Homo sapiens: one gene and its partners. The protein of the gene in region 3 interacts with the protein of the main gene of each other region in a pairwise test. Each region holds a gene or a part of one and is shown on either strand. Other genes may lie near its edges. The genes, in order: PCYT1A, MTERF4 and TNFRSF10D.

The links.
Region 1: the proteins of TNFRSF10D (region 3) and PCYT1A interact in binary tests that used the Homo sapiens proteins (3 or more experiments, as listed by UniProt).
Region 2: the proteins of TNFRSF10D (region 3) and MTERF4 interact in binary tests that used the Homo sapiens proteins (3 or more experiments, as listed by UniProt).

What each region holds. Positions count from the first base shown.
Region 1 is NC_000003.12:196,267,127-196,270,726, forward strand, and holds part of PCYT1A (choline-phosphate cytidylyltransferase A), read right to left. Parts: intron 3,416-3,600; 5' UTR 3,406-3,415; coding exon 3,289-3,405; intron 1-3,288. UniProt on the Homo sapiens protein: Catalyzes the key rate-limiting step in the CDP-choline pathway for phosphatidylcholine biosynthesis.
Region 2 is NC_000002.12:241,095,644-241,099,471, forward strand, and holds part of MTERF4 (transcription termination factor 4, mitochondrial), read right to left. Parts: coding exon 3,753-3,828; intron 1,785-3,752; coding exon 1,600-1,784; intron 796-1,599; coding exon 355-795; 3' UTR 1-354. UniProt on the Homo sapiens protein: Regulator of mitochondrial ribosome biogenesis and translation. Binds to mitochondrial ribosomal RNAs 16S, 12S and 7S and targets NSUN4 RNA methyltransferase to the mitochondrial large ribosomal subunit (39S).
Region 3 is NC_000008.11:23,136,380-23,140,207, forward strand, and holds part of TNFRSF10D (tumor necrosis factor receptor superfamily member 10D precursor), read right to left. Parts: intron 1,882-3,828; coding exon 1,809-1,881; intron 1,625-1,808; coding exon 1,491-1,624; 3' UTR 1-1,490. UniProt on the Homo sapiens protein: Receptor for the cytotoxic ligand TRAIL. Contains a truncated death domain and hence is not capable of inducing apoptosis but protects against TRAIL-mediated apoptosis. Reports are contradictory with regards to its ability to induce the NF-kappa-B pathway.

The DNA of each region.
Region 1 (3,600 bases), on a different chromosome or scaffold from region 3:
CGAGATTGCGCCACTGCACTCCAGCTTGGGCGACAGAGCGAGACTCAGTCTCAAAAAAAAAAAAAAAAAAAATTAAGTACTTGTACATGTTGCAGTACGAATGAATCTTCAAAACAAGCTCAGTGAAAGAAGCCAGCCCCAAAGACCACATACCGTATGATGTCATTTGTATGAATGTCCAGAACAGGCAAATCCACAGAATCAGAAAGCAGATTAGTGGCTTCCAGAGGCTGGAGAGACTGGGGGGAAATGGGGAGTGACTGCTAATGAGTACAGGCCTTCTTTCTGGGGTGATAAAAATATCCCAGGCCAGGCATGGTGGCTCACACCTGTAATCCCACACTGTGGCAGGCTGAGGCAGGAGAATCGCTTGATCCAGGAGACTGAGACCAGTCTGGGTAACATAGTGAGACCCCATCCCTACAAAAACAAATTTAAAAATTAGCCAAGCATGGTGATGTGCACCTATATTCCCAGCTACTTGGGAGGCTGAGGTGAGAGGACTGTTTGAGCCCAGAAAGTTGAGGCTGCAGTGAACTATGATCACACCACTGCACTGCAGCCTGGGTAACAGACCAAGACCCTGTCTCAAAAAAAAAAAGAAAAAAATTCTAAAATTGGTCATGGTGATGGTTGCACAACTCTGTGAATAAACTGAAAACCACTGAATTGTATACTGTAAATGATATGTCAATTATAACTCAATAAAGCTGTTAAAAAAAGAAAAAAGTCTTGCTTGCTTTTGTTATAGAGTTCAAAGGAGATTCAGAGCTAGAAAGTACAGGTGTACAGTGAGATGGCAGAAAGTTTACTAGCAGACATTCCTCCTCACTAAGGTGGGCCAGGCTGTTGGGTGGATCTCTGACCATTCACCTATGCCAAATAGTCTGTGTGTTTCAGGGAGGAATGTGGAATAGGTAGCAGCAAGTCACTGAACTGATTTCACATGAATATATGAAGCAAAGTAATTTAAAGCATTAAGACTCCCCAGAAGAATTTAAAAAAAAAAAAGATTCCCAGAGTCTAAAGACCAAGAAATTTAAGTTTTCTCAGAGCTCATTCCACTGAAAAGACTGGCTTCCTTTGCTTTATTCCTAGCTACAGTGATTGGCTGATTAGCTGACAGTATCACCTATTTGGTTATAACTTGTTCCTACTCCAAGTGATGTTGCTGAATTGGTACACACCACCATTTCTTTAATCTGAATTATCTAAGAAATATTCAGAAACTAACAATGCCCTGTTTTGTTGATTGCTGAGTCACTTTCTGAGCTTATTTGCTGTAGTATGCAGAATAATGCCCCCCTGCAGATGGCCACACCCATTCCCTGGAGCCTGTGACTGTTTTACCATACATGGCAAAAGAGACTCTGCAGGCCAGGCACAGTGGCTCACGCCTGGTAATCCTAGCACTCTGGGAGGCCGAGATAGGAAGACTACTTGAGCTCAGGAGTTCAAGACCAGCCTGGGCAACATAGCAAGACCCTTACTCTAAAAATAAAAATAAAAATAAAAATAGTAAGCCAGGCATGGTGGTGGGCACCTGCAATCCCAGCCACTTGGGAGGCTGAGGCAGGGAAATCACTTGAACCCAAGAGGCAGACGTTGCAGTGAACCGGGACCGCACCACTGCACTCCAGCCTGGGTGACAAAGCGAGACTCTGTCTCAAAAATACAAATAAAAATAAATAAAAATAAAAATAGTAAAGAGGCTTTGCAGATATGATTAAATAAAGGAAGATTATTCTGGTTTATCTGGGTATACCGAACGTAATCACAAGAGTCCTTGTAAGTGAAAAGGGGAAGTAGGAGGTTCAGAATCAGAGCAGGAGACATGGCAGAAGCAATCGTCAGAGTGATGTGAGCACTGGCTGGTGCCAAGCACTAAGCAATGTGGGAACCCTCTAGAAGCTGGAAAAGGCAAGAAGATGGACTTTCCCCTGGACCCTCCAGCTCTGCCAACACCCTGATTTTAGCCCTCTGAGACCCATTTCAGATTTCTGATATCCAGAACTGTAAGATAATTCATTTGTATATTTGTATTATGGTAATTTGTTACAAATGCAACAGGAAACAAATATATATACTTGCCCTTATGATCAATATCAGCCCTGCAGGCACTTGTCTATTTGTAGGGTATTATTTGCTTTTATTGCTCAAGACAGAGCATTCATTTGGAATAAGTATTAACTGTTTCAGAATAGATTTTTCCCTTTGGGCTGGGAAGCTCTAGAACTAAGCAGTGGAAACTGAGTTTGATCAATGGCTAATAGTCAATATAGGTAAAGAAACATACAATTCTGTCACTGGGATTTTGAAACACAGATTTCATAATAATATTAACAACAGTAGCTTCAATTGTGTGTAAGTGTTCTCTGACATGTTTTTATTATGGAAAGTTTTAGGAAGGGTAGCAAGCTGAGACAGGATAGGCAGTGTGGAGGAAAGCTTTAGGAAGGGTAGCAAGCTGAGATGGGATAGGCAGTGTGGAATGGGGTCTTTCATCTAAGGTTTGGCAATAATTAGGAAATACAAAGATAATTTTCCAGAGATAAAGGAGCATAAGGTAGGCATAAACGGAAAAAGGTTCTCATCTAAGATACAACTAGTAACAGGATGGAGGAATGATAGAGGGAGAAAAAACAGCAGAAAAGACGCACTAGACACCATGAGATGATACGAAGATCAAATCACTGCCTAGAGCCCCAATTTTTCTATTTCATTAGTTTTATTTATTTGTTTATTTACTTTTTATTTTTATTTTTGAGATAGGGTCTGTCTCTGTTGCCCAGGCTGGAATGCAATGGTGCAATCTCGGCTCACCGCATCCTCCGCCTCCCGAGTTCAAGCAATTCTCATGCCTCAGCCTCCCAAGCAGCTGAGATTACAGGCATGCGCCACCACGCCCGGCTAATTTTGTATTTTTAGTAAAGACAGGGTTTCACCAGGCTGGTCTCAAACTCCTGACCTCAGGTGATCCTCCCACCTCAGCCTCCCAAAGTGTGGGATTACAGGTATGAGTCACCGCACCTGGCCATATTTCAATAGTTTCAGCCTAATACACATGCAACTTCCATATTTTCCTAACACTTCTTTTTCTAAACCCAATGTAAAGCTTCTACAACTGAGCTGTGAGTCATAATCCAGTAAAAAGGCAGCAGATTTCCAGTGACTGTGAAAATACACTTACTATTCCTTCTTTTCATTATTTCAGAAGACATGTAACACTGATATCATCAATGTCATATCGGTTTCTACCCTCCCCCTGCCAGGTTAATCTCCACTTACCACTGCACAGCGCTGCACTTTGGAAGGAACCCCATCTTCTTCTGTTGCCCCGTTGGGTCCGGGCGCCTCTTTTCTCCTCTTCCTTGCATTGACCTTGGCTGAACACTGTGCATCCATCTTCTTTTAACTGGTCATAGAAAGTGAAAACAAAAATTTTCTCATTGGGGTGGGAAAAAGTTTGTCACCAGTATTTCAGAGACGTTGACGTGGATACACTCAGCAAAATACCAATTCTACAGCTGCACTTCACCAAGATGAGCCAATGGCATCTGGCAAAACCAGCGAAGCTTCACAAAACACAGGCTCTAGTAG
Region 2 (3,828 bases), on a different chromosome or scaffold from region 3:
CATCTTCCAACTGTCACGGAATTATCACCAACATATTCAAAAGAGAAAAAAATAAAACCAATTGTTGATATATTGAGTCCCCTTGATGTGAATAGCTCAACATAAGTATCTTATTCAGGATGGGACAGGGCCCTCCCCACAGACACGTGACAACAGATCAAACATGCATTTCCTGTTTCCTGTTTGGTTTGATCTGTCTGCCTCTCAGGTGACTTATAATTTTTTTCATCAAGAGACCAGTTTTAGAATAAAAAATAACTTGAGAAGATTCAAGTAAAGGACCCAAAAGCTTTAAGAGAATGAAAAGCTTCCTTGATATCTCTGGGCCCTTTCGCTCTAGTCCTTCCATCACAGCTATTCCTCCTCGTCGTCGTCCTCATCCTCATCATTGTCCTCCGCCTCGTCGTCGTCCTCATCATCGTCATCCTCATCATTGTCATCCTCATCATTGTCCTCCTCATCATCGTCATCCTCATCCTCATCCAGACTTGCCCTTTTGTCATCAGATGTGCTGCTCTCAGACTCCTCCTCCTCCCGAGCCAGGAGCTTCTTAAAAACTTGAAACTCCTCAACAGAAGTACAGGCTGTCCTGGCCAAAAACTCAGCTTCTGAAACTCTGAGAATGTCCTTGAGCAATGGGTTAGGGATCTGTGTCTGCCCCTTCTTATCAGGGGTTTGGTACCGTCCCAGGCGCTCCAGGTAAATGTGTCTCTGCTTAATCTTGGTTAGTGAATACTGCAAGTACTCACTCTTTACAATGTCTGGATGCTTAATTCCCATCCTGAAGTATGCATACTGGAAGACACAAACACACTTAGGAGTCCCAGATACAGAGTATTGAAACCTATCATTCTATAAACCATAAAAACTTAAGTTGTACAAAAGGATTCAAAAAGAATTGCCTAATTGACAACAGCGAATACCCAGTCTAGGATACTGACATTTGTGTGACAGCCAGCAGTTTCAAAACACTTTCAAATTCATCCTGAGAAACATGGAGCAGGAAATAAAGGGGTGGGAGGGAAAAGGGGCAGGAGGGAGAAGGGGCAGAAGGAAGAGGTGGTATTTTTCTTTAAATGGGGAAGGAAAAGGATGAATATGGAAAGAATAGGCAAAACATTCAGAAAACATCTAGAAATTCGACCTAAGTTGTCATAATTATTACCAAAAAATCGGACAACTGTTAAAATTACATTTTCAAAATCAACATGCAAAATAGATTCTAAGGACAGGAAGGTTTCAGCTATTTTAAAATTAGCTATTTCAGAGTCCCCACTTAGACTCTAAGAATAGGACTGGATCATTCATTATTAATGGCAGAAAAGTTGAAGAATAGGTTTGATCTGTAGTAAAGAAATTAAAGATTTCTCTTTGGCTGATGTATGCAGAGAATCTAGTCTTTCACTTCCTCCACTCAAATATGAGGTGTCCGAGGCTTCTTATCCATATAACTGACCTTCACTACATTTGAAAAACCTGAGAAACTTGCTGTTACTACACTAATCACGGTACCAGTCATTCTCACCTGAAACTACGCTAATCCCATTACCAGTCATTCTCACCTGAAACTACGCTAATCACGCTATCAGTCATTCTCACCTGAAACTTGTATTCCAGTTGACCCAGGTCCTCTCGAAGAACAGAGGGGCAACTGTGCAAAATCTTGGTGACTTGCTGTACCGTGAAAAGGCACTTCTCCTTGAGAAGCCTGACAGTGTCGTTAATGTCCTGCTGGCGCATGGTGAAAATTTCAGGGCAACAGTAAAGCACCCTCTTTAATTTCCCTGCAGAACATTCAAAAAAGGCAAGCATATAATTTCAGGATACTCCAGAAACTCAAGGAGCTAGCTGCACCCAATTTAAGTCCACATTTAAAAACAAACAAGGATCCTCTCCTTCCACAGAGCAAGTGGCAATTTCAGATCTATCTTCCCAGAAGCACCATGGAAATGATACATCTCCCCACTGACTTCCTGACACTCCTCAGACTCACCATCCTTCCCTCCCTATATTCCTGCTTTATTCTGGCCTCCCACCTGAAAGGTGCCAACTTTGTATTTTGGGTCTCCTCTTGCCCTCCTCACTTGGAAAAGAATTTCCCAGGCATTTACTGGAAAGATCAGAGAGTAATATGGGAGAGTAGTTTCCTCCATATTGCTGGTTTGGGTTGATGTTTCCTTCTATAATAAAATAGTCATTGAAGCATTCACAACTAACATTCTCAAGCTGAACTCAATGAAAAGGAGTTCCATCACCATCGTCATCATAACAGTAATAACAATAATAGTAATCATGAGGACACACAACACCAATGCTGACGTCCTGGTTACCAGGGTCACCATATATCTTCTCCAAGCCAGGGCACCTTGAGTGAAAGAGGCCCTATTAAAACCGCACTAACTGGTGTAAACTGGGACTATTCCAGGCCTTCCTAGGGATAGCTGAGCAAAATTCAGTAATGGGAAACTTAAAGTCAACTATTTAAACTGTTAATTAAAATTTTCCTAACATTTGAGTTAGTGATTATCTTAATATGTGAGGAATTTCAGTTTAGGTTTATCTTCATTTCTTAAGGCTGTGCTGAGTTTGCTAATTAATCACCACCACACATAATATATTTAGACTTTTAGATTACACTGTAAGAATCTGTTAAGAAAAATATACAAGGCTACCTTTTTCTTATCTTCTAGAGAAGGAGGCCTGTAGAGATGCTGTGAAATGGTGGATCCTAAACCTTCTACCACTGCCTCAAAAAACATCTTACCAGGAAGAGTCAATAATGCAAAGAAATAATAGTGGAACTCCTCTGGTCAAAGTGGGTAAGGGTCCTTGGAGACCCCCAACTCCTCCAGAAGGCCCTTAAAGAGATTCAAGGAACTTTGAGCATCCTTGAGATGTGAATATTGTTGGGGGCAGGAGTGGGGGATAAATAGAAGGGAAGGCCACTCCACGAGTATCCCAGGAACCTGGCCAGATCTCTCATGTTCCAGAGTAAATCTAAACACTCGACTAGAATCTAAGTCTTTACAAGAGATGTTGGTTTGACATCACATCACAGAGACAGAGCACTAAGACCATTTCATGTTGATTTAAACATCAAATGCTATATGTACACATATTTATCAACATCACATTATCAGCATCAACCCACTGAACACATACCATATGCCCACCACTGCACTAGGTGCTGAAGATCCCACGGTGAACAAGGCAGACAAGAGTCTCTGCCCTGGCACTCAATTTTTTCTTCTAGTCTTAACTCCTCCTCCTTCCCTCTCAAAATGTATTCTGCACAGAAAGCCACTCCTATTCCTCACCTCCAAGCCAAATTATACAGTCCTCTCCAGGAACACTGACATACTCAGAAACCTCCCCTAATCCATCTCACCTTAGGCTGCTCTTTCCCCACCTCTGGCTCCTGTCACACTATATAAAATCTTTTTTTTTTTTTTTGAGACAGCCTTGCTGTCACCCAGGCTGGAGTGCAGTGGCGCCATCTCAGCTCACTGCAACCTCCGCCTCCTGGGTTCAAGCGATTTTCATGCCTCAGCCTCCCAAGTAGCTGGAATTACAGGTGCGTGCCACCAAGCCCAGCTAATTTTTCTATTTTTAGTTGAGTCAGGGTTTCACCATGTTGGCCAGGCTGATCTTGAACCCCTGACCTCAAGTGATCTGCCTGCCTCGGCCTCCCAAAGATCTGGGATTACAGGCATGAGCCACCGCACCCAGCCAAAATCTGCAACTTCTTGTACCTTCTCCAAGCCCAAGCTTTTGCAGGTAACTGGAGCGCTTCCTCATTTGCATAATAGGCAGTTTCAATAACTGGGG
Region 3 (3,828 bases):
GCAGCTCAGGAATCTCTGCCCTAAAAGGCATCCCAGGGACTCAGTTCACAGACCACCAGAAGCGAGAGGGGCCCATCCATGCCTGAGTCGGCAACCATTTCACACCATTCCCAAGCACCGTCCACTCTTCCCTCTTGATGCCATGGCAGATGCCGGGGCAGATAAACACCTGCTCTGCCCTGAGCCCAAATGAGGCTCAAGATTCACTAACGTTCAACTGTAATGGCGCTTGAAAGAGAAGCTCTTCGCAGTCTCGGATCTAACTTAATTCTCACTGTCCTCATCTGCTGTGGACAAGTCGGAAGATGCAGTCCCATGACTGTCCCAGCACGACAAACCAGACACATGGCTTCCCAAAGATACCAGGCTCTTCAAAATCCTGGGCATATGTAAACATCTACTTATAAATAAATAAATAAATATTTATTTATAAATAAATATGGCTATATACCTCTAAAATTAACAAGTAAGACAAGCTGCCCCTTGAGAAGCTGCCAGCCATCAAACCCTGGTCCAGTCTCAGGGCGCAGGAGGGAGAACTGGAATGCAGTAAGTGCCTCCCACAGAGGGAGGATTTCTCCCTCCGTCACTAGTTATATTTTTAGTCATTTTTGACTGCTGATTTGTATCCAGGCAACCCATGTAAACAGCCTAATAAGTGCATTTCCTAAAGTTTTTCCATGTTTACATCATTATACAAAAATCGGAAAAGAGATGTACAGCCTACAGTAGTAAGCAATATAAATGTTTCTCTAATTAAGGTGGGGGTAAGCCCCAATAATCCTATCTTAAAGCTCAAAACTCTAAGTCGAACCCTCGTAAGTCCATATGCTCATGACTTAGCATAGGGCTACGTCTTGATAATCTCATCATTAAGTCAAAAATATCCGAAACTGAAAATACAGGTAATAACAAGATAATCCCGTTCTAAAGTTAAAAAACTATAAGGCAAAGCATTGTGGCTGTGCGGCATCTGTAGTTAGATGTCATTAAATGCACACACCAGTAGAGATGGAGCTTGCAATATAAGAAGCAGAAAAAAAGACTTGTCTCATGATGAAGAACTGCAAAGAATGACATCCTAAAACCACTTTTTTTCTTTTTAAATTGAGATGGAGTTTCACTGTGTTGATGAGGCTGGTCTCAAACTCCCGAGCTCAAGCAATCCACCTGCCTCAGCCTATCAAAGTGCTGGGATTACAGGCATGAGCCACCGCATGTGGCCTAAAACGACCCTTAATACACAATCGTATAACTATGCAGCCAAGAATCTGATATAAATTTCTCCCGTTTGCTTATCACACGCAGTATTTCATAAAAATTACTCCAAGTGCGTTAACAAAGTTCTAGGACCATTGGTAAGCTGCCCCATATTGGATAGTAGAGTTTGTTGGGGCATGGGTCAAGTACTGGACTGTTTCTTCCAGGCTGCTTCCCTTTGTAGGAGAAAAGGTAAATGAGGGAAGCTCTGGTTTCCTGAAGAGATTCTTTCACAGGCAGGACGTAGCAGAGCCTGCCTCATCTTCTTCATAAAAGAGCTTTTCGGAGCCCACCAGTTGGTCCTGAATTGTTTCCTTTGCATGTCCTTCTTCCAGTGTTGCCGAGGCATCCAGCAAGGTGCTGACTGAGAAGAGAGAAGAGATTTAGGGTCTCAATGCTCCAAGGACGATCAGCACAGGATCGACATGGGGCCCCCTGCTTCCAGCAGTGAAACCTCCAGAAGAGCCCTCTCAGCTATAGGGACAGCAGTTAGGACACCGTCCCTATTCCCTGTCCTCCTGCTGCGTCTCAAGGCACAAAACACTTACTGTCAGCGGAGTCAGCGTCATTCACTGGAACCAGCAGCCTCCTCCTCTGACACCCTTCAGCTTCTGCCTGTTCCTGTAACACACAGTGGGGAATGCTCTGGTCAGAGTCAGGAGTCCTGCAGTCTAGTACTGACCCTGACCACTAGCCAGCAAGAGACCTGCAGCGCTTTCCCTCTTGGGTCTCCATGGAGATGGAGACAAACCTCTGGTCCTCCATAGCTCTTGGGCTCTGTGTGCTGGTGGCTCATTGAGACATAAGTGACATGCAGTAAATGCTCACTTTGTAAGTGTTCTGACCAACTTTGACTATAGGCCTGTGTAATTATCCCCTGATCAAGACATAGAAACTGCCACACCCCAGAAAGTCCCCTTCTGCCCCATCTAATCAACTCCCACCCACCCTCACAAGAAATGATCACTTCCTTCCAGAATTCTTACCAGCAGAGTCTCGGCAGACTATATATGAGAGCACCCAGGAAAACCTAACAAAATGATTTATCCCAAGACTGTAAATGATCTTTGATCATCAGTACTCTACCATATCAATAGCGTAATTAAATAAAATGGCAGTCTCTATGGAGGCTGGAAAGACATTTGGTAAAATTAAACAGCAATTCTGATTTTTTTCAAACCCTTTTAGAATAGTAAGCTGTGTTCTTGATGATGAGAATTTCTATATGAAACCAAAAGTGAATGCCATTGCTAAGAGTGACACTTTGGAGGCCTTCCCCAGAAATCAAATCAGGACCCAAACACCTGCCTTCCCTAAGCACAGCTGAATATTGTTCTGAAAGGTCTGGCCTAGGCAACAAGATGGAAAATTAAAATGAGGCAAGACTTTTGGAAGAGGGCAGACACAATAATCATTATTTTCAACGTCATTTAAAACCCCTAAGATGAAACTACAATATTGAAATAGAAATGTATGTCTGGAGGAATGTTAAAAACATAGCAAATGCAATAAATTAGCAAACAGAATTACAAGGTTATCCAACTCATAATGGATACAAAATACTAAACAGCCATAAGAAACAGGAATAATTTATTTGAAGAGGAACACAAATCACAACTCAGTTACAATAAAATACTTGACACCAAATGTTATCTCCTTTGATAAGGAAATACTGAATATTAATAAAATATTCAGTGTTTCTAGATTAATTTTTAATTTTAAAGCGAATTGATAAAACGGCAACTGAGGTTTTTCGGGAGGGAAGGATGGAGGAAATCTTTTAATTCTAAATTTTATCTGGGTAAAATAATACATTTTGAAAAAGTATGGAAGAGGTGTTTGCTCTTTTGGATGTTAAAAAACATTAGAAAGTTCCCATTGGAACATGCCTCAAAATGGTAAGAGCCATCTATGACAAACCCACAGCCAACATCATACTGAATGGGCCAAAGCTGGAAGCATTCCCCTTGAGAACTGGAACAAGGCAAGGATGCTCACGCTCACCACTCCCATTCAACATAGTACTGGAAGTCCTAGTCAGAGCACTCAGGCAAGAGAAAGAAAGAAAAGGCATCCAGATATGAAATGAAGAAGTGAAAACTCTTCATGGACGATATGATTCTATACCTTGGAAACCCTAAATACTCCACCAAAAGGCCCCTGGAACTAATAAACGACTTCAGCAAAATTTCAGGATACAAAATCAATGTATAAAAATCAGTAGCACCGGGCACCGTGGCTCACACCTGTAATCCCAGCACTTTGGGAGGCCGAGGCAGGCGGATCACGATGTCAAGAGTTCAAGACCAGCACGACCAACATGGTGAAACCCCGTCTCTACTAAAGAATACAAAAATTAACGGGGCGTAGCTGGGTACGGTGGCTCACGCCTGTAATCTCAGCACTTTGGGAGGCCAAGGAGGGCGGATCACAAGGTCAGGAGATCGAGACCATCCTGGCTAACACGGTGAAACCCCACCTCTACTAAAAATACAAAAAACTAACCAGGCGTGGCAGTGTGCGCCTGTAATCCCAGCTGCTGGGGAGGCTGAGGCAGGAGAATGGCGT